4 separate regions of the Homo sapiens genome follow, and regions 1, 3 and 4 are each linked to region 2. The links come from fine-mapping of genetic effects on gene expression. A gene starts in region 2. Each other region holds a variant in brackets. All regions are shown on one strand. Distances are from middle to middle. Region 1 has its middle 110 kb from the start of TBC1D2B. Region 2 holds the start of DNAJA4 (DnaJ heat shock protein family (Hsp40) member A4). Region 3 has its middle 2.8 kb from the start of SKIC8. Region 4 has its middle 6.3 kb from the start of ACSBG1.

The links. PIP is the estimated chance that this variant, and not a neighbour inherited with it, causes the effect.
Region 1: its variant is fine-mapped to the expression of DNAJA4 in fibroblasts (GTEx, PIP above 0.99).
Region 3: its variant is fine-mapped to the expression of DNAJA4 in whole blood (INTERVAL, PIP above 0.99).
Region 4: its variant is fine-mapped to the expression of DNAJA4 in whole blood (TOPMed, PIP 0.98).

Annotation. Positions count from the first base shown.
Region 1 is chr15:77,967,885-77,973,030 of GRCh38, reverse strand. No RefSeq gene overlaps it. Among named protein-coding and RNA genes, the nearest start is that of TBC1D2B, 110 kb to the left of the region's middle. The variant T/C (reference allele first, on the strand shown) is at 2,029.
Region 2 is chr15:78,261,584-78,266,729 of GRCh38, reverse strand. It overlaps DNAJA4 (DnaJ heat shock protein family (Hsp40) member A4), which reads right to left and starts at 2,168. Exons shown (of 7, transcript NM_001130182.2): 1 at 1,835-2,168. The coding sequence starts at 1,966. DNAJA4-DT (DNAJA4 divergent transcript) reads left to right here and starts at 2,586. Exons shown (of 4, transcript XR_001751621.1): 1 at 2,586-2,673; 2 at 2,773-2,858. RefSeq lists silencers at 1,635-1,924, 2,235-2,314.
Region 3 is chr15:78,299,860-78,305,005 of GRCh38, reverse strand. No RefSeq gene overlaps it. Among named protein-coding and RNA genes, the nearest start is that of SKIC8, 2.8 kb to the right of the region's middle. RefSeq lists enhancers at 5,000-5,089, 4,265-5,146. The variant G/A (reference allele first, on the strand shown) is at 2,925.
Region 4 is chr15:78,238,296-78,243,441 of GRCh38, reverse strand. No RefSeq gene overlaps it. Among named protein-coding and RNA genes, the nearest start is that of ACSBG1, 6.3 kb to the right of the region's middle. The variant CT/T (reference allele first, on the strand shown) is at 2,651.

The sequences.
Region 1 (5,146 bases), 290 kb after region 2:
AGTTCTTCAGGTCAACCCTCTTGGACAAGCTCCAGAAGCTACCCTCCAGTGCCCCCCCACCACCTCCTGAGGGTTCTTCTGCCCCACCCTATACTCGCATGGCCCTGGCCTCTGCCCAGCCTGCCCTCCACTTACAGCAGCACCCTTCTTCCTCGGCGTGGAAGCTGGCCTTTAGAAGGCAGGCTCCTTCTCCGAGTCACTGTTCCTGAACCCAGGAGGGCTTGGTGCCCCTCTCCCCATTCCTACAGACCCACGAGGACTGCATGCCTCAGTGCCAATCATCCCCAACTGTCATCTGTCCATCTCCCCATGGTGTGAGGGCCTGGAGGACAGGCACCTGGAGGTCTGTCTCCTTTACCACGGTCCCCACACACAGGGCCTGATGGACATGGAGTCTGTGGACACAGCAAGAACGAGTTTGGATTCAGCCCTGTGGGTCTACCTGGCTGGATAAGCATCTATATGCAGGAAGCCAAAGGGCTTCAGGACCAGCTAGGATGAGAGGGTGGTCTGTGAGTGCCTCTGCGACGCCCCCAAGTCCTAGAAACACTGCCTGACTGTTTGGCACTTTCGGTGAATCTCACTCATTCTGTCCCCCAACCTGCTTGGGTGGGGCCCATCCTGTCTCTCCTGTCCCACCCCCATCAAGGAGACCAAAGGCTGCAGGCTGGAAGACAGGCTGCTGCCACCCTCCCCACCTCCGCACACCCTCTTCCTTCCACCTCCTGGGCCTTGGGAGGGCCCTGCTACCTGACTCCCAGGATGCAAAGGTGAAAGTGCAAAAGGACCTTGGGAAGAAGGGGTTATTCTTCCTCCCAAACGCCCCTCCATTGGGGAGGGGCCCGCTCCCCTGGGGAGGCACGTATTGCTCTGCTTCTGTCTGGCTCTCCCTGGTGCCAAGGCTCTGGGAGGCCCCGGCTGGCTCTGACTCTCACCCTGTCCTCTCACCCTCACCCCAGGCCCCGAGCCAAGTCCCTCAAGCATTCCAGCAGCTGAATGAGGACAGACTTGTCTGTCTGTCTGTCCTAGAACCAGGCTGTTGGGCGGCACCCTGGGTCGGGGCAGCTGGGAACAAGCCCTGGGGGTGCTGTGGGGGCAGCTACTATTCTGATTTTCTGAAGCCATTCTCTCATTCTCTGCCTCTCTCTGGGGAAGGAGACACACCCTCCTCCCCACCTTCAGGCCACTTCCCTGGTTCAAGTCCATCCTATCTATCACTTGGTAACAGTGGAAGGAATAGTAATGAGTGTGCGTGAAATGCTTACTGTGTGGCAGGCACTGTGCTAAGCACTGCATGCGTTTTCTCACTTATTCCTCATATCACATGCACAAGGCAGGCCCATCATCATGTCCATTTTTTGAGGCTTAAGAGCTAATATAACTTGTCTGCCAACACAGGTAGAAGCCTGGGCCACAGTCTAGGTTCTTTTTTTTCCCCAAGACAGTCTTGCTCTGTCGTCCAAGCTGAACTGCAGTGGCATGATCTTGGCTCACTGCAACCTCTGCCTCCCAGGTTCAAGCAATTCTCCTGCCTCAGCCTCCCGAGTAGCTGGGATTATAGGCATGCACCACCACACCCAGGTGATTTTTGTATTTTTAGTAGAGACGGGGTTTCACCATGTTGGCCAGGCTGGTCTCGAACTCCTGACCTCAAGGGATCCGCCTGCCTCAGTCTCCCAAGGTGCTGGGATTACAGGCATGAGCCACCATGCATGGCCAGTCTAACCACCAAACAAAACTCTTCTCTGCTTCCAATCCCCCCACCCCAGTACTCCCTCTTCCACTGGAGGCCAGCATCCTTGCTCTTACATCGCTAATGGACCTAGTCACATCCCTGCTTAAGCCCCATAGTGAGTGGACTTCTAGAAAAACATGGCACGTTGAGCAGACAGATTTATTGCTGCTCCCTTCCAAAACTCCACTATGATGACAGTGGAGGAAATAAACAAGGCATAAATCCATAAGGGGTGATGATGGGTAATGAAGGATGTCAACAAGATTCTGGAAGCTGGGAAGCAGATGGCCAGG[T/C]AGTAGCTGACTTGGTAGAGTGATAAAAGCTGAGAGCCAATTGCCTGCAGGGAGGAACCACCCAGAAGGAGAAGCCCGGAAAGGCTCAGGAATGGAGTTTCCAGGGACCCCTCAGGGCCTTAGTGCCAGGAGGGCTGAAGACAGTAGGGCTGAAAGTCTGTAAGAACCGATCAGACCCTAGATCCCCTCCCCAACCCTGAGTAGCCAAGTGATGGCCACCTGCCACCCAGCAGAGGGCCGGGGATCACTCCCTGGGGAGGGTGAACCAGGAGGCTCTGGCCCAGGAATGGTAGACATACATGAAGGCCCAAGGCAGAAGGACCTACAGAGAAAAGGGGACAAGCAAAAGTCTATACATTGAAGGGTAAGAAACATGCCAAGCCCCTTCCCCACTTGGATGCTGCAGCCAGACATACACTCTCCCAGGAAAAGTCGAGAGGATTGTTCTCTGGGGAAACTGGTTCACTCAGAAAAATGACCTCAGTGACTGACATTAGAGGATCTTCCCAAAATAGCCCCATCTGAACCAGTCTTTCAGCAGAGACTTGGAAAAGTCCTGCCCAAGTCCACAAACTGCCCAATTAGTGTCTCTGCATCTCCTTGCTATATATGAAATACAGCCAATGCATTTTAAGAAAACTTTTTTTTGAGACAGTTTCTCTCTTTTGCCCAGGCTGGAGTACAGTGGCGCAATCTCGGTTCACTGCAGCCTCTGCCTCCCGGGTTCAAGCGATTCTCCTGCCTCAGCCTCCTGAGTAGCTGCGATTACAGGCACCAGCAACCGTGCTTGGCTAATTTTTTTTGTATTTTTGTTTAGTAGAGATAGGGTTTCACCATGTTGGCCGGGCTAGCCTGCCTCGGCCTCCCTAAGTGCTGGGATTACAGGCATGAGCCACTGCACCTGGACAAGAAAACTGTTAACATGAAACAAATATGTATTTTTAAAATAACCCAAAGGAAAGAAAAACATTTCAGGGAACAGAAGAAAAAAGTCAAATCCATGTAAGTAATAACCTCACAGAGATAAGAGAACATACTGTACCCATGAAACAAGAATAGGATCAAAAGGTGCACAGATTGAGCATCTCCAATCCCAAAATCCAAATGCTCCAAAATCCAAAACTTTTGAGCACTAACATGATGCTCAGAGGAAATGCTCTTTGGAGCACTTCAGATTTTGGACTTTCAGACTGGGGATTCTGAACTGCTAAGTATAATGCAAATACTCCAAAATAAAAAAAAAAATCCAAAATCTAAAACACTTCTGGTCCCAAGTATTTCAGATGTGAACTCAATGTGTATTTAGTGAATGAGAAAGTTTAAGAAATTAAAAGTACGATGAAAAAATTCAAAAATTTAATAGGATTGTAAAGTAAAGATGAATCAGATACCTCCTAGAAGACAGAAAGAGATGGCTGGGCATGCTGGCTCACGCCCGTAATCCCAGAACTTTGGGAGGATGAGGGAGGAGTCCAGGAGTTCAAGCCCAGCCTGAGCAACATGGCAAAACCCCATCTCTACAAAAAATTGAAAAAATTAGCTGGGTGTGGTGGCACACACCTGTAGCCCCAGCTACTTGGGATGCTGAGGCAGGAGGATCTCTTGTGCCTGGCAGCTCGAGCTGCAGTGAGCCATGATTGTGGCACTGCACTCCAGCCTGGGCAACAAAGCAAGACCCTGTCTCAAAAGAAAGAAAGAAAGGAAACAAAGAAAAGAAAAGGAAAGGAAAGGAAAGGAAAGAAAGAAGAAAGAAGGAAGGAAGGAAGGAGAAAGGAAAACAAAGATGAAAAATATAAAACATTTAAAAATAAGAAAGTGAGAAAATAGGTGAATATTAAGGGTTCCAAAAAGAGAAAATGTAAGAAAGTTATCAAATAAATAATACAACAACAGTTCAAGAACCGAAGGGCACAAGTTTCTAGATTAAAACAGTCCAATGAGTGCTCCCTCAAATTAAAATAGGCCAAGGCATATATTGTAAAATTTAAAATCACCAAAAAGAGAGAAAGAGAGAGAGTCCTAAAAGCTTCCAGATTTTGTAAAAGGTCACATTCAAATCAGAATGGTATGGGACCTCTTCAGAGCAATGTTGGAAGCTAGAAGACAACAGAAAAATGCCTTCAACATTCTGAAGAAGAGTCACTTTCAACTCAGAGGTTGATATCAAATCAAAATATCAATCAGATGTGAGCAAAGAATAAAGACACTTTGAGATGGGCAAACCATTTACCTCCATGCACTCTTTCTCAGAAAGCTACTTGAGGATGTGCTCCACCAAAACAAATTAAAAAAAAAAAAAGGTACCTCCCCATAAAAAAAGTAGCATGGGATCCAAGAAACAGGAAGACCCTCCATAAATATTTTGGGGCAGGCCTAGAAAGCATCTAGTCTAAACTAGAGGACCGAGGGAAGTTGGGAGGAGGGTCCAGGAAAGAAGGGAACTGCTGGATTATCTGGTAGGGATTACCTTTGGGAAAACTGGATTAAGAGACATCTTATAAAACTATTAAAGGATCTGGAAGGCCTGGAGAAGCAAGGAAAACAAAGCACAAAAAAAACTGTTCTTAAAAAGAAATGCCATCTAGATGGGGCACGGTAGCTCATGCCTATAATCCCAGCACTTTTGGAGGCCAAGGTGGCAAATCACTCGAGGTCAGGAGTTCGAGACCAGCCTGGCCAACATGGAAACCCCGTCTCTACTAAAAATACAAAATTAGCTGAGTGGGGGCGGCAGGTGCCTGTAATCCCAGCTACTTGGGAGGCTGAGGCATGAGAATCACTTGAACCCAGGAGGCGGAGGCTGCAGTGAGCTGAGACTGCACCACTGTACTCCAGCTGGGGCAACAGAATGAGACTCTCAAAAAACAAACAAAAAACAGAAATGCCATCTTATTACAACACTTAGTTCAGCCATCAAGATTTACAGCCATAATAATGAAAACGTGGAATGTGGACTTAATCCAAATATGTTAACACAAAATTGGGATGAAAGGTGAGGGGACAAATGCACATACAGGAAGTGATGCAAGGGTGCTAAATCCCAACCTTCCAGATAATATCTAAACTGGAAAATCAATAAATGAGAGTCTAGCAATGCTTTTTGGAAATAGGAAAATAA
Region 2 (5,146 bases):
CCATTAAAGGAATACAGTTAATCAAACAAGTAATCACCATTAAAGTAGGATGCACGTTGGGCCTGTGGTTCAGTCTATGAGGCAGAGGCAGCCTCCTGGAAGATGTTTTAGCTGAGAACTAAAGAGTTTTATCCCCTTCCATGAAGGTAGAGGAAGGAAAGTATTCCTGGCAATGGGCACATCACAGAACCCTTCCCTCCAAGCTGATGGGCCTGCCAGACCTCACTGCCAAGGGCCTCATTTATGTGACACTAACTCAGTGCCTGGCTATGAATAAATATTAGTTTAAAACAAACCAAACAACCTGCCCAGACAGGTATAGACAGGGTGAAACCTACACATATGTAGTACAGGTCAAGTCTAATTTTTTAAAAATAAAAGCTTCAGAACAAAAGCATATTCAGCTCTAACTGTATACACAGAGGCATGAACTTACTCTTGTGAGTGCTGAGATTTGACCTGAATCCAGGGTCAGGCTTTCCCACATGTCTTTAGCCAGCTTGCTGAAATGTGAAATTAGAAGCCTACAAGCTCTCCTTAAAGGAGACTGTCAGAAGCGGACCACAATGAATGTAGGGAGCAGGTGGATGAATCACCAGCACCATGTAAAACGCCAGTGCCTTTAAAAGCTACAGTAAGCCATCTAAATATAGATGAGAAAGAACGCAAGTGAGTAACAGACAAATGGTCTTACAGGAAAGCATTTTAAACTTGTGACAGCCACATTCAGCACATGTGGCTAAATATAAATATTCCATCACTGTTGCCATTCAGCCAACCGTCCTGAAGTAGCTTTCTCCAGCTTGGAACAACTAACACAGACAGGTATTTTGATTCCAGCGTCGTTTCCACAGGTCTTAAATGCTACATGGGTGATTGGTGTGGTTTCAAACGTGGCCCAAGTGACACTGCTATCAGCTACTATAACGGCCCCACCTCTCAAGACCCATGCGGAACAACCAAAGTTTTGTAAGAAAATGGCAAGAAGTGAAAGGAGGAACGGGAGGGTTAGCAGCCTTTCCTTGCAATGCCTCATCCTTCAATTCACCTATTCAGGTGGGTCATGAGCCTCTTTAGAGATAAAAAGCAAACTTTCTGTAAACAGGATGGAAAAGCTTTTAACTTCTGTCTCTAAAATGCAGAGCATTTTCAGTCTATGATTGGTACTTATGATCAACTGTGTGTCACTTGTCACCGAAAACCCAGAATATGAGTACAAGCTGATGTCAGGTTGCAGATGTCCGTGTCCCTGTTTAATAAAGAAAATGGGATTATTCACTATCTGACGCTTTTATCAGGTAGGCAGTAGGTGCACAGAACAAATCCAGCTAGTCATTCTCAAGAGAGGCACGGCGTTTGTCCAAGGTACCAGCTCAGATTAAAGACACTCATCCCTAGGGTTTATGCATCAACAGAGAATATGAGCCAGTCGTTCCCAGCAAGTAAACAACTGTTTGTGTGTGCCTCAGTTTCCCGATTCCCAGGCCGCCTCTCCCACAGGGAACCAACACACCCTATGAGAACTAGTCCGGCGCGCACGGCAGGGGCTACCCAAACACTTGTGGAGCGAATGGAGGAATGAATGGGCTCGGCAGGGACTCGCGAGGGACCCAAGTGCCGCACCACATGCCTCCTCCGCGGGCGAAGCGCCCTCCACCGACCGCGCCGCACGGCGCCCAGGGTCTCCCGCCACCTCTGCCCGGCCTGGCCCCGAGGCGCCTGGCGACAGCCTCCCCAACAAACGCGGCTCAGGTTTCCCGTCGCCTTCAATGCTCCTGGCTTAATAACCCTTGGCCCCTCGGGAGCCCGGCCCGTGCCCCGCGCCGCCCCGCACCTTCTCGCCCTCATCCGGGTTCTTGTCCGGGTGGTACTTGAGCGCCAGCTTCCGATAGGCCTTCTTGATCTCCTCCGGGGACGCGCTGGGCTTCACGCCCAGGATGTCATAGTACTGGGTCTCCTTCACCATCTTGTGTCTGCGGGGGGGGCGGGCGAGGCCGGTCAGAGCGCCCCGGACGCCCCTGCCGGCACCCTGGCCCGCGCCCCTGGCCCGCGCCCCCGCCGCCCGCTCGCGCGTCACGGTCACGGTCGCCGCCGCCGCCGCCGCTTGTAGCTCCCGCCCGCCCCCCGCCCCGCGCCGGACCGACTTCCACGCCTGGCTCCACCGCACTAGAGCCACCGGCTCCTCCGCGGCGGGTTTTATTCGGCGCCGGCGGAAGCTTCCGCAAGGAGACGGTGACGCCACAAAGGCCTAGAACCTTCGCGGAGGTTCCGGCGGCCCCGCGGCGGGTTCGCGGCCCAGACCCCCGACGCCCGTCCGGCGCGGCCCAGCCGCTCACCTGGGCTTCTCGGGCGTCTGCTCCTTTGGCTGCCCGTCTGATTCCCCGGAGCTCCAGCTCTGACTGCCGCCCCGGGCCATGGCGGGGGCCGGAGAAGGCGGCTTGGGCCTGGAGGGCGCCCTCCGACAACTGTCCCGCCGCCCCGAGGCCGCCCCCTTGCCCTTCCGTGGGTCCGTGGAGCCGGCTGGCTGGAGAGTAGGCGGCCTGGAGGGCTGTGTTGGCCGGAGCCCTGCGCCGAAGGGTGGGACTGGGAGAGCTGCGCCCTGCGGTCCCCACCCGGCCTCTCCCCGGGGGTGTGGCCGCCGTCTGTTCGGTCACAGCCAGGCTGCGGCCTAAGGTGTGCCTGGGATTGTTGCATTTTTTAGGGGGTTGGAGTGGGTAGGGGCCCTCTGCTGCCTCATGACTGCAAGGCTGAGGTGAACCTCTGGCCTTCCAGTTGAGGTACAGGGGTCCTTTGCTGGCCCCAGATGTGGACAGTATCCTCTCGAATGCCCACCACTGGGAACCCTTAAGTCCCTCAAGGTGAGCAGTGACGTCCCCCACATATGGGCAGTGACGCCCCCCAAGTCTGCCAAGGGCCGACAGTGCCCTCTCTTCTCCCAGAAGTGGGAAACTGCCCCCTCTCCTCTGCACATCATCAGTGAGCAAACATCAGGGCCCGACCAGGCTGTTGGGCCCAGTGTTATGCACAGGGGGTCCCATGGCCTGGACCCTGAAACGGCTAGGTGGCCCAGGATGCTTGCCTTGGAAGGGTACAGGAGTAGGTCCCGACTTCCCTAGGCTGCCCCCAGCTCCCAACGGGTGCTCAGGGAGTCCAGATCACAAACCGTTGCAGAAAAGTGGGCGTGGAAAGCAGGCCCCAACGCTATCACAGAATTGCAGGCCCCTGTCCCCTAGCCCTCCCTTGGCTTCTGCCAGGGGAACAGTTTGTCAGAAAGGGGGGTCACTGCTCACCTCCCTGGGATGCCCTGGCCTTGTTTTGGGTACTGTGGCTGAAGCAGGTACTACCTCTCCTCCATGTGTTCCATGGGGGTGAGAAGTGACTTGTACTGTACAAGAGAAATTAAGCTGCTCTTCTTGGAGATGTTGCTTTTTTTTTTTTTAAATTATGCCTTGTAGAGCAGAACCTTTAGGCAGAGAACTCAGAGCTAGAGGTCAGAAACTTTGTTTTCTATCCAGATCTTACTGTCTGAGCCTTAGCATCTCAACACTTTTCTTCGTCAGCAGGACATGGGGATTGCCACTTGCCTGCCTTTCTCACAGGGCTCTTATAAGCATCAAATGGGATGATAACTGTGAAGACTCCTAGCGCAGTGGGTCTCAAACCTGGCTCCTGACAGAGATCACCTGGAATCTTCTAAAAATCCCTCTGGGTTGCACTCCACACCTGTTACCTTAGAGCTTCTAGGGGTGAGGCCCAGGCATCAGTGTTTTTCAAGCTCCCCAGGTGGTACAGCCAGAGCCGAGATCCACTGCCCAGGGTCACATACTTGTCCAGATTTAGTACTCGGGACCATAGGCATTCGTAAAATGGGCATGTGCAGGAGAGGGATGGCTTAAAGACAGAGCCTAGAAACATAGAATGGAGCTATGCACTTTGGACGACAGTGAATTCTGGAACCAGTGAGACTTAGACCTAGGTTCAAATCCCAGCACTGCTACTTCTGGCTGTGGAACCTTGGGCAGACAACTTAACCTTTCTGAGCCTCAGTTTTCTTAACCTTTTAATGAGGATATTAATTATAACTACTTCATAACTTTGTGAAACACCTGGTATATAGTCACAATATTGATGCTTTTTGGGGGTGGGGGGGTGCGGGCAGGGGCTAAGGTATAGAAGCTGATAGTGATTCTCTTCTTGATGGAACTTAGCCAGGCTCCTATGAGCCCTCTTCTCAACTAGGCTTCAGTCTTGGCCTATAAAGACTGAACAGACAGCAACACAGTTTCTAATAATTCAACGTCACATCCTTAAGATCACCAGTTCCCAGGCTTTTTGGCACCAGAGACCAGTTTCATGGAAGACGATTTTGTCACGGACAGGGTGGTGGGGGTGGGCAATAATTCTATGATGAAGGCCTGGCGTGGTGGCTCACACCTGTAATCCCAGCACTTTGGGACGCCGAGGTGGGCAGATCACTTGAGGCCACGAGTTCAAGACCAGTCTGGCCAACTTGGTGAAACTCCATCTCTACTAAAAATACAAAAATTAGCCAGGGATGGTGGTGCTCGCCTGTAATCCCAGCTACTCAGGAGGCTGAGGCACAAGAATCGCTTGAACCCGGGAGGCAGAGGCTGCAGTGAGCTGAGATCACACCACTGCACTCCAGCCTGGGTGACAGAGCAAGACTCTGTCTCAAAAAATAAAAAATAAATAACAATAGGATTGTCTAGTAAAATCAGATATTTTTGGCCAGGTGTGGTGGCTCAGGCCTGTAATCCCAGCACTTTGGGAGGTCGAAGTGGGCAGATCACTTGAGCTCAAGAGTTTGAGACCAGCCTGGCCAACATGGTGAAACCCCGTCTCTACTAAAAATACAAAAATTAGCCAGGTGTGGTGGCACGTGCCTGTAATCCCAGCTACTCAGGAGGCTGAAATAGGAGAATCACTTAAACCCGGGAGGCAGAGGTTGCAGTGAGCTGAGACTGTGCTACTGCATGCCAGCCTGGGCAACAGAGAAAGACTCTATCTCAAAAAAGAAAAAAAAATGGAGGATGAAACTGTTCCACCTTAGATCATCAGGCGTTAGATTCTTATAAGGAGCATGCAACCTAGATCCCCCGCATGCACAGTTCACAGCAGATTTCAA
Region 3 (5,146 bases), 38 kb before region 2:
TAGTGTTACGGGATCTTTGGACGGGTGTGGGAGGTATTGATTTTCTTCCTGGGAGCGCCTTTGCCTGAGTTCTTGTCCTGTGTCCAGGAATAATGAGGTACTCGAAGAACTTACTGAGTGTTAAGCAGCTCAGAGAAGACCCGCAGTGGGTAGCTCCTCTGAGCAAGTCATCCCATGGAGTGTTCAGCTCTCAGCAGACAGGAGGCCTGGAGAGGGTAGCTCCCCCTCTGCCCACTGGTTATCCTGCCACCTGCTGCTCTCAGCAGAAAGAAGACCCAACCCTGGAGAGGGGAGCTGCTCTCAGCAAAAAGAAGACCTCACCCTGTAGAGGGGGGCTGCTCTCAGCAGAGAGAAGACCCAACCCTGGAGAGGGGGACTGCTCTAGGGGATCCTGGCGGGGGGTGCTCCTGGAGAAGGAGGCTGTTCTGGGGGATCCTCTCCTCAGGTCATTTGGAAGTCTCTACAGGAGGAGGGGGGCCTCCTCTCCGCAGGTCCTTTGAAAGGCTCTGCAGGTCTCTGCAGCTCTGGCAGAGAGGGTAGCTCCTTTCTACAGCTACTCTTCCCGCTGTCTCTCCATCCTCTCCTGCAGTTTGGCTGAGCCCAGGGCTTTTATGGACCTCAGAAGGGAGGAAGTGTGTGCTGACTGGCCCATGGGCGGCCATGGGTGAGCCTGGAGGAGGCACCACAAGCTCCCACTCAGGTCTGTGGGACTGGCAGCCTGGTCCCCAGTCTTCAGTCCCTCCCTGACCTGAAGGTGGGGCCTTACTGGAGACCTACCCCCTTCTGCCCAGGAATCGATCTGCCTCCTACTGTCATTCATGGCCCCTGGGGCTTGGCCCCAAGCCCTGCTCCATGATCAGAGCAGGGGCGGCAGCAGAGAGAGGCCAGGCAGCAGGAACAGACACCCCCTAGCGACGGGGTGCGGTGGGGTCCTTTCTGGGGTCCACGAGGGTGCAGGCTGCAGAGACCCTCTGGGTCCTGCACCTAGGAGGGCAGATCTTGCCTGCTCCCAGCCCCCTCCAAGAGCACCGGGAGGCTCGGATCCACAGCCGCTGTTTGGGCAGTTGTAGCCCCGCCCAGGAGGGTGGCGACCCTGCCTGCTCCGTAAAGCAGGAGGCCTGGATCTGCAACTGCTGTTTGGGCGGCTGCAGCAGCACCTGGGGAGCTCTCCCCAACTCAGAAGGGGGAGGCATCCACCAGCATGCAGCCCCAGCTGTGCCTCCCTGCCGCAGCCCGGTGATGGCAGCAGCTACTGCAACAATAGTGTAAACAGTGGCCGGGCGCGGTGGCTCACGCCTGTAATCCCAGCACTTCGGGAGGCCAAGGCAGGTGGATCACGAGGTCAGGAGATCGAGACCATCCTGGCTAACACAGTGAAACCCCGTCTCTACTAAAAAAAACACAAAAGAAAATTAGCCGGGCGTGGTCGCGGGGGCCTGCAGTCCCAGCTACTCAGGAGGCTGAGGCAGGAGAATGGCGTGAACCCAGGAGGCGGAGCTTGCAGTGTGCCGGGATCGCGTCACTGCACTCCAGCCTGGGCGACAGAGCGAGACTCTGTCTCAAAAAAAAAAAAAAAAAAAGGGTAAACATTTTGAACTGTATGCATTATTATATCAAGGAGTAGCATATCTTGCATGAATGCTCTCTTTTGTGTCTAGGTATTCTAAACACTCTTAATGTGAAAATGAAGTGCATGTAGCAAAAACCTTTTATTATAAGAAACTTTACAACACTTGTGAAAAAAATTAAATTTGGTTTGTGCACAGTGTAACCTTTCTCCAGATATTGTCCAAAATTACACACGCACAAACCGTTCACCCTAATTAGGCGTTGGCCTCAACCTAAACATCTGGGACTGTTATCTATTAAACTGCTGCCAGAATCTTACATCCAGTTACCTCCACTTTCTAGAACATATTCTCTAATAATGCCATAGAAACCAATTTCTACTCCATACTGATGTTTTTTTGCAACAGCAATTAAAATTTTTTCTTCCAAAAAACCCCATTGTTCTGGGACAGGATTCATTGGTTTCATCAGATGCCTGAGACGTCCACAGTGTAAAAAAGGCCAATTATTCTAGCTTTATAGTCCCAATGCTAAGGTCATGCCAATGATCCCATATGTCTGGCCCTCTGGGGGAATGTGGTGAAAGTAGGTACTTAATACATCCTTTTTGAATGAATGGTTTGGAGTTCTTGTCATAATTATAGAATTATAAAGCTGGAAAGTCTTTAGAAAGTCTTTATTACAATGATTTTCAAAGTGTTTGGCCATGACTCATAGCAAGAAATGGATTTTCACTTGTGACCCAGTAACCGCATGGGTGAAACAGTTTTTATAAAACATGATGTAACTTTACTATGTATGATGCACTCTTATATCTTCTATTCTACTTCTTTCTTAATGTATTCCATTTCTCTTTTTTGAGATGATTAATTGAATTTTTATCCAAAACAACTGGCTTCAATTGAAAATTATTAGTAGCAGATTTGGGAGCAAGTAAACAGAAATGGAAAGCCTTAGTATTTGGCTTAATTATTCTAAAAGCACACTGATCACATTTATGCTTTTTTAATTTTAAATTTTAATTAAATTTTAAGTTAAAAGGCATAAATGTGATCAGTGTGCTTTTAGAATAATTTGAAGGTGGGGTATTTAAAGTTAATGTGTAGAAAAGAAAAAAAACCTTACATAACCCCAGATCACACAAATTAAAATTCACTTAGTCATACAGTTGTGAGCACTTTTGACAGCCAAAATTTCACCCTTCTTAAAGTAGGAGTCTTTCAAAAATACTTCTTCATATTCAAAAGCTAAAAGTTAGAGTGAAGATGGCCCAATTATCTCGGTGTGGGAGAGGTTACATAATAATCTATTTCCAAAACCCACAAAAACCCGTAAATGTCACCAACAAAAACAAA[G/A]CAGCAGATTGGCCAAAACTAAGGCAACTGGTTATACAGGAAGGCAGCAGGTCACTCATTTAACTGCTAAAAGCCATTGCTTTGTAGTACTAATGTTAATTCCTTTCCACACTTCAGGAACCCACATCCCAGCCATTGCAGGGTCAGTTTCTGTGTATTTAGCTCTGTGGAATGTGCCCGAACACCAGTCAGCACTTAAGTCAATCTAAGTTTGAAAATCAGCTCACTGGCTTCATGATATAATTTGTACATTCTTCCTTAGCTTCAGGGGCACATGCCTGACCCTGGTCCAATAGATCCAGAATGGTTACAAGGATATCTTGACTTATAAGAGATGCCACATAAGAATTTTGACAATTCAGTCTTGAAGTCTGCTCACTTTGACCCAAACTTTTTAAGCCAGTGACATGCAGAGGGTCCACTGGGGCTGGATGAAATTTCTATGGACAGAGATGTCACAGAGCTGGGAAGGAGAGAAATAGCTCTCCAGTCAATGTGACTGAGAAAAATTAGTCATATCACTCTGAAACATGTGAACTTGAGGGTTAAGGATGCTGGCATGCAGGGAAGTCATGTGTGCAGCAGAAGAGCTGCAGGATGTCTTCTCTTTTGTGTTAATGTGAGATTACTGAGGACAAGAGAATAGGTCCTGGGAGATGTGGGTGTATTTGCCAATTTCTCACCACACATAGCCTCCTCAAAAAGCCCCCAAAGATGGCCAGGTGCAGTGGCTCATGCCTGTAATCCCAGCAACTTGGGAGGCAGAGGTGGGTGGAGCACCTGAGGTCAGGAGTTTGAGACCAGCCTGGCCAACATGGTGAAACCCCGTCTCTACTAAAAAAAAAAATACAAAAAAAAATTAGCCGGGTGTGGTGGTGGGTGCCTGTAGTCCCAGCTACTGGGGAGGCTGAGGCAGGAGAATCACTTGAACCCAGGAGGCAGAAGTTGTAGTGAGCCGAGATTGCGCCACTGCACTCCAGCCTGGGTGACACAGCAAGACTCAGTCTCAAAAGAAAAAAAAGCCCCCAAAGATGAACTTCACCTAGTTGTAAGTGGTCTAATAGTCCTCCGTCTCTCTCTCTATATATATATTTGAACTTCAAAACTAGTTTTTTCGAAAAATATTTTTTAGAGCCAGGGTCTCACTCTGTCACCCAGGCTACAGTGCAGTGGCCCAATCATAGCTCACTGCAGCCTCAAACTCCTGGGCTCAAGTGATCCTCACTTCTGCCTCCTGAGCAGCTGGGTCTACACGTGCACACCACTGCGTCTGTAACTTTAAAATTTTTTGTAGAGATTGGGTCTCGCCATGTTGCCCATACTGGTCTTGAAATCACGGCCAGAAGCAATCCTCCCCCCTTGGCCTCCCAAAGTGCTGGGATTACAGGAGTGAGCCACCACATCTGAGCCACAGGGCGGCCTCCATAATGGGGCATGAGCCTCTTCCCATCTTTTTTTGTTGTTGTTATTCGAGACAGTCTCACTCTGTTGCCCAGGCTGGAGTGCAGTGGTGTGATCTGTGCTCACTGCAACTTCTGCCTCCAGGGTTCAAGCGATTCTCCTGCCTCAGCCTCCCAAGTAGCTGGGATTACGGGCACATGCCACCACACCCGGCTAATTTTGTTTTTGTTTCTGTTTTTTTTTTTTTTACTTGAGACGGGGTTTCACCATATTGGCCAGGTTGATTTCAAAACTCCTAACCTCAAGTGATCCACCCACTCCGACTCCCAAAATGCTGGGATTACAGGCATGAGCCACCACACCCAGCCCCATCTCTTTTTTTTTTTTTGAGACGGGGTCTAGTTCTGTTCCCCAGGCTGGAGTGCAGTGGCGTCATCACGGCTCAATGTAGCCTCAACCTCCAGGGCTTAAGCGATCCTCCTGCCTCAGCCTCCCAAGTAACTGGAACTACAGGCATGTGCTAATTGTTTTTATTTTTAGTAGACACGAGGTCTCTCGCTATGTTGCCCAGGCTGGTCTGGAAACCCAGAGCTCAAGCAAGCCTCTCACCTCGGCTCCCAAAGTCCTGGGATTACAGACGTGAGCTACTCTGCCTGGCCCTCAAAAAAAAAAAAAAAAAAAGTCAGTTGACAACCTATTAAACTGATATCTGTCACGTTAATGGGTCATGACTAGCAGTTTGAAAGACAAAGCTCGATTTCACTGAATTTATTTCAGCAACAGAAGTTATTAGCTTTAGTCCAATCTCAAAAGTACAAAAT
Region 4 (5,146 bases), 23 kb after region 2:
GTGACATTCACAGACCCCATCTGGGCTAAGTGCTCACTGGGTTTCTGTTCAATCAATGTAGTCATTTACAGGTGAGGAAACTGGGCTTCTGCGATGTGGAGGCTTCCCCCAGGGTCATGCAAGCTGGAACCAAGTCCTGTTGACTCTCAATCCAGTGTTCCTTCCCCAGCCTCAGGCCACTGCCTAAGGTCAGGGGCAGCCAGCGTGGAAGGTGCAGCCTGGGTAGCAACAGACATCCTCAGCTGCGTGGCTCTGTCGTGATGAGATCCCTGGAGAGTCATTCAAATCTCCATTTTTTTTGCCAATGAGCTGCCTCTGTCCCAATGTCCAGAGCATTCTCAGGCCCGAGGATACTAAAAACAGCGAAAACTTTTTTTTTCTGTTTTCTTTTTTTTTTTTTTTTGAGACGGGGTCTTGCTCTGTCATTCAGGCTGAGTGCAGTGCCACAATCTTGGCCCACTGCAGCCTAAAACTCCCAGGCTCAAGCAGTCCTCCCCGCTTCAGCCTCCTGAGTAGCTGGGATTATTGGCATGTGCCACCATGCCCAACTAATTTTTTTTTTTTTTTTTTTGTAGAGACAAGGTCTCTAGGCTGGTCTCAAGCTCCTGGACTCAAGCAATCCCCCCTCAGCCTCTCAAAGTGCCAGGATTACAAGTGTAGGCCCCTGCACCTGGCAATGAATTCTAACTGGATGTTTACATACCACTCTAAGTGCCTTCAGTAGACTTAACTCACTGCAACCTCATGAACTAGGAATCATGACTCCATTTTACAAATAAGAAAACTGAAGCACAGAGAGGTTAAGTCATGTATCCAAGGTCAAACAGCTTATAAGCATCTATCTCATCCCAGATGCTCTAGAAAACAGAGCCCAAGGCAAAGTTTATGTCCTAAGGCTTTATTGGAAGTGGAATTCTAGGGCACAAGAATCAGGGAAAAAAAAAAGACATGAGGCAGAAAAGGAAGGAAAGCAAATAAATAGAAGGTAGTTGCATTTCTGAGCTGTTCTTCATTGCACAAGGAAACATAGCTCTTTGCTATGTCATGTAGGTGACCCAGACAGGTTGTGTGTGCTGCACTTTGGACCATTCTGTTGAGGGGAGAAAGCCGGGGAACTTACGGCTGTCTTCCTATCCCCGGTCTCTCCACAGGAGGGAGCCAGTGCAGAGTGAGCCATGAGATTCACTCCCTCATAAGGGAGGTGGAGAAGGGGGATCCTTCCCAGTGGCAGAGCACCCCTCGCCCCTTTGTGTTTAGTTATTCACCCTGTCCTGCATTGCACCCATCATCTCGTGGTCCTTTTTGTCTCTGCTGGTTTCAGTTAGGGGTTCTGCCCCTGGTAATCAGGACTCTCCATTTTACAGAGGAGGAAACTGAGACTCAGAGAGGTGACTTGGCTTGGGTCATGGTGCAAATCCAAAAACCAGTGTGTTCCACCCCTGCCCTATATGGTGCAGATCTGGAGAATACGGGTCACGTGGCCCTTGATCCAGGTCTTTCCAGGTGAGAAAAGAAGGTGCCTCCTCTGCAGAGGTTGCCCAGACATCTGGGTTCCCTCCCTTCCTCCTCCTTCCCTAATCCTCCAAAGGCCTCCATCCTCCGTGGTCTCCATTGCCCACTCCCAGCTCAGTCCTGGCAGGTTAGAATCCTCTATGTGCTACGTTCTTCTGCCCCTCCTCTCAGGAAAGCTCTGCCCTGGTGACCCATAGCTCAGAGAATGTGAGTCCCTGGGAGAGGAGTTTGAATCTCCAAAAATCTCTGGGTTTTATCTATTTTATTTTATTTATTTTTGAGACAGAGTCTCTGTCACCCAGGCTGGAGTGCAGTGGTGCAACCTTGGCTCACTGCAACCTCCACCGCCTGGGTTCAAGCAATTCTCCTGCCTCAGCCTCCCGAGTAGCTTGGACTACAGGCACCCACCACCACGCCTGGCTTATTTTTGTATTTTTAGTAGAGACAGGGCTTTACCATGTTGGTCAGACCGGTCTCGAACTCCTGACCTCAGGTCATCCACCCACCTTGGCCTTCCAAAGTCGGGTTTTATCTAGAGCTGGAGGATACTCTGATCCCAGGACTCACACCCCACCCACTCGATGTAGACAGGGCCAGAGGGGACACAAATGCAGCCCAGAGCCTCAGCGCCCTCTGGAGCACAAGGGTCTCCCAGCCGGGCCCCAGACTCGATGTCCAGAGCACACTGTGGTGGCTGCCGGAGGCCTTCTGGGGGCAGGGGAGGAAGGACGGCTGTTTCTGGGGATGGAGGCAGTGGCGCAAGATCCCAGTCCTGTGGAGACCTGGGTGGGTGGGAGGCGCTCTGGCCAGCAGGGGTCAGCAGAGGCCCATTGTTCTCCTGCTCGTCCTGCACCCAGAGACGACTGCGAGGCCTCAATCCAGAGCCCCAGGTGCAGTATTTTGAAATTTAAAAAGAAAAAAAAAATCGTCTCCTGGTAATACATACGCATGATAACAAAAAAGTGGCCCAGAAAAGCTAATGCTGAAAACATACAGCAATGACCCTCCCACCCAAGCCTTTTTAAAGGCTTTTAAAAACAAAAACAAAACACTTAATATCTCTTTGTTGTGGGAGGCAGGCTGATTGCTTGACCCCAGGAGTTCAAGACCAGCCCGAGCAACATGATGAGACCCCCCC[CT/T]CAATCTCTCAAAAAGAAAGAAGAAAAGGTAGTTTCATGTTAATTTCAACATGCATTGGGAAATATCTGTATATATTTATATAACAAGTTCTTCAATTGCTTAGAATAAAGCTATTTCATTTTTAAATTATAAAATGGAGTTGAAAAATAGTAAATAATGTACTATACCCCTGGGGAAACCAAATATGGCAAAACTAATGAAGGTGGTAAAGAAATTGATTGGAAAATAGTGGTCTTGATTTTTTTTTTTTTTTTTTTTAAGAGATGGAGTCTCACTCTGTTGCCCAGGCTGGAGTGCAGTGGCGTGATCTTGGCTCACTGCAACTTCCGCCTCCCGGCTTCTAGCAATTCTCCTGCCTCAGCCTCCTGAGTAGCTGGGATTACAGGTGCACAGCACCACGCCAGCTAATTTTTTGTATTTTAGTAGAGATGGGGTTTCACTGTGTTGCCCAGGCTGGTCTCGAACTCCTGAGCTCAGGCAGTCAACCTGCCTCAGCTTCCCAAAGTGCTAGGCATGAGCCACCACACCCAGCCAATTCTTGAAGTTGAAAACCAGTGAGGGCAGCAATCACTTCGATGACAGTAGAGGCTGGTGCAGAGGCATTTGGCCTTACACGCATAGCAGGCACAAACTTCCTCAATCGACAAACTCAGGTGGGCAAAACTGCAGTTTTATTTTCTGTAACTCAATGGAAAAAAAATTTTTTTTACAGCTCTCCACCCTTCCTCCTAATGGCAGGACATTTAATCTGTTGGTTTTGAGAGACAGGACCAGCTGGATTTCCTAGGCCGACTGAGAATCCCTAAGCCTAGCTGGGAAGATGGCCACATCCACCTTTAAACACGGGGCTTGCAACTTAGCTCATACCTGACCAATCAGGTAATAAAGAGAGCTCATTAAAATGCTAATTAGGCAAAAACAGGAGGTAAAGAAATAGCCAATCATCTATTGCCTGAGAGCACAGCAGGAGGAACGACAATCGGGATATAAACCCAGGCATTCCAGCTGGCAACTGGCTACCCACTTTGGGTCTCCTCCCTTTGTATGGGAGCTCTGTTTTCACTCTACTAAATCTTGCAACTGGTGGGGCACGGTGGCTTACGCCTGTAATCCCAGCACTTTGGGAGCCTGAGGCGGGCAGATCACGAGGTCAGGAGATCGAGACCATCCTGGCTGACATGGTGAAACCCAGTCACTAATAAAAATACAAAAAAATTAGCTGGGCATGGTGGCGGGCTCCTGTAGTCCCAGCTACTCGGGAGGCTGAGTTGGAGAATGGTGTGAACCTGAGGAGGTGGAGCTTGCAGTGAGCCTAGGTCACACCACTGCACTCCAGCCTGGGCGACAGAGCAAGACTCCATCTCAAAAAAAAAAAAAAAAAATCTTGCAATTCTCTTCTGGTCCATGTTTGTTACCGCTCGAGCTGAGCTTTTGCTCGCCGTCCACCACTGCTGTTTGCCGCTGTCGCAGACCCGCTGCTGACTGCCATCCGTCTGGATCCGGCAGGGTGTCCACTGTGCTCCTGATCCAATGAGGCACCCATTGCCGCTCCCGATCCGGCTAAAGGCTTGCCATTGTTCCTGCACAGCTAGGTGCCCAGGTTTGTCCTAATCCAGCTGAACGCTAGTCACTGGGTTCCACGGTTCTCTTCCGTGATCCACGGCTTCTAATAGAGCGATAACACTCACCACATGGCCCAAGATTCCATTCCTTGGAATCCATGAGGCCAAGAACCCCAGGTCAGAGAACACAAGGCTTGCCACCATCTTGGAAGCGGCCCGCCACCATCTTGGGAGCTCTGGGAGCAAGGACCCCCCGACCCAATAAGAGTTTCGCAAAAACTCGGTCATTTTCAAGTTTAAACTTAGTCAAGTCCTAGCGTCCCATTTCTAGGAATTTATCCTAGAGATAGACTAGCTCAAGTACGAACCACGCAAGGATAAGATTATTCATCACAGCTTCATCTGTAACAGCAAAAGACTGAAAACAACCTAAATGTTCATCCTACAGAGCTGTTGAAATGCATCTCGGGCCAGCCCTTCCATGGAATGCTGTACCTACCCCACAAAAAGAGAACCAGGAAGTTCTCCAGGCAAAAATATGAAAAGTTCTCCAGCAAATGTTGTCAAGTATAAGAAGACACGAAACTGTGTATGCCATATGTTAGCATTTGTATATATCCAAGATATTTCTAGAATGATGCAAAAAAGAAATTTTTAACAGTGGTGGCTCTGGAGAAAAGAAATGAGTGAAGGATGGTGGGGAGAGGGACAGAAAAGTGGGAGGAAAATTTAATTTTTACTATGAAGCCCTTTGTACTTTTTAAAACATTGTATTGAGGTGAAATTCACATAACATTAAATTCACCATTTTAAAGTGTAGGATTCATGGCTGGGCATGGTGGCTCACACCTATAATCCCAGTACCTTGGGAGGCTGAGACAGGAGGATCCTTTGAGGCTAGGAGTTCAAGACTAGCCTGGGAAACATAGCAA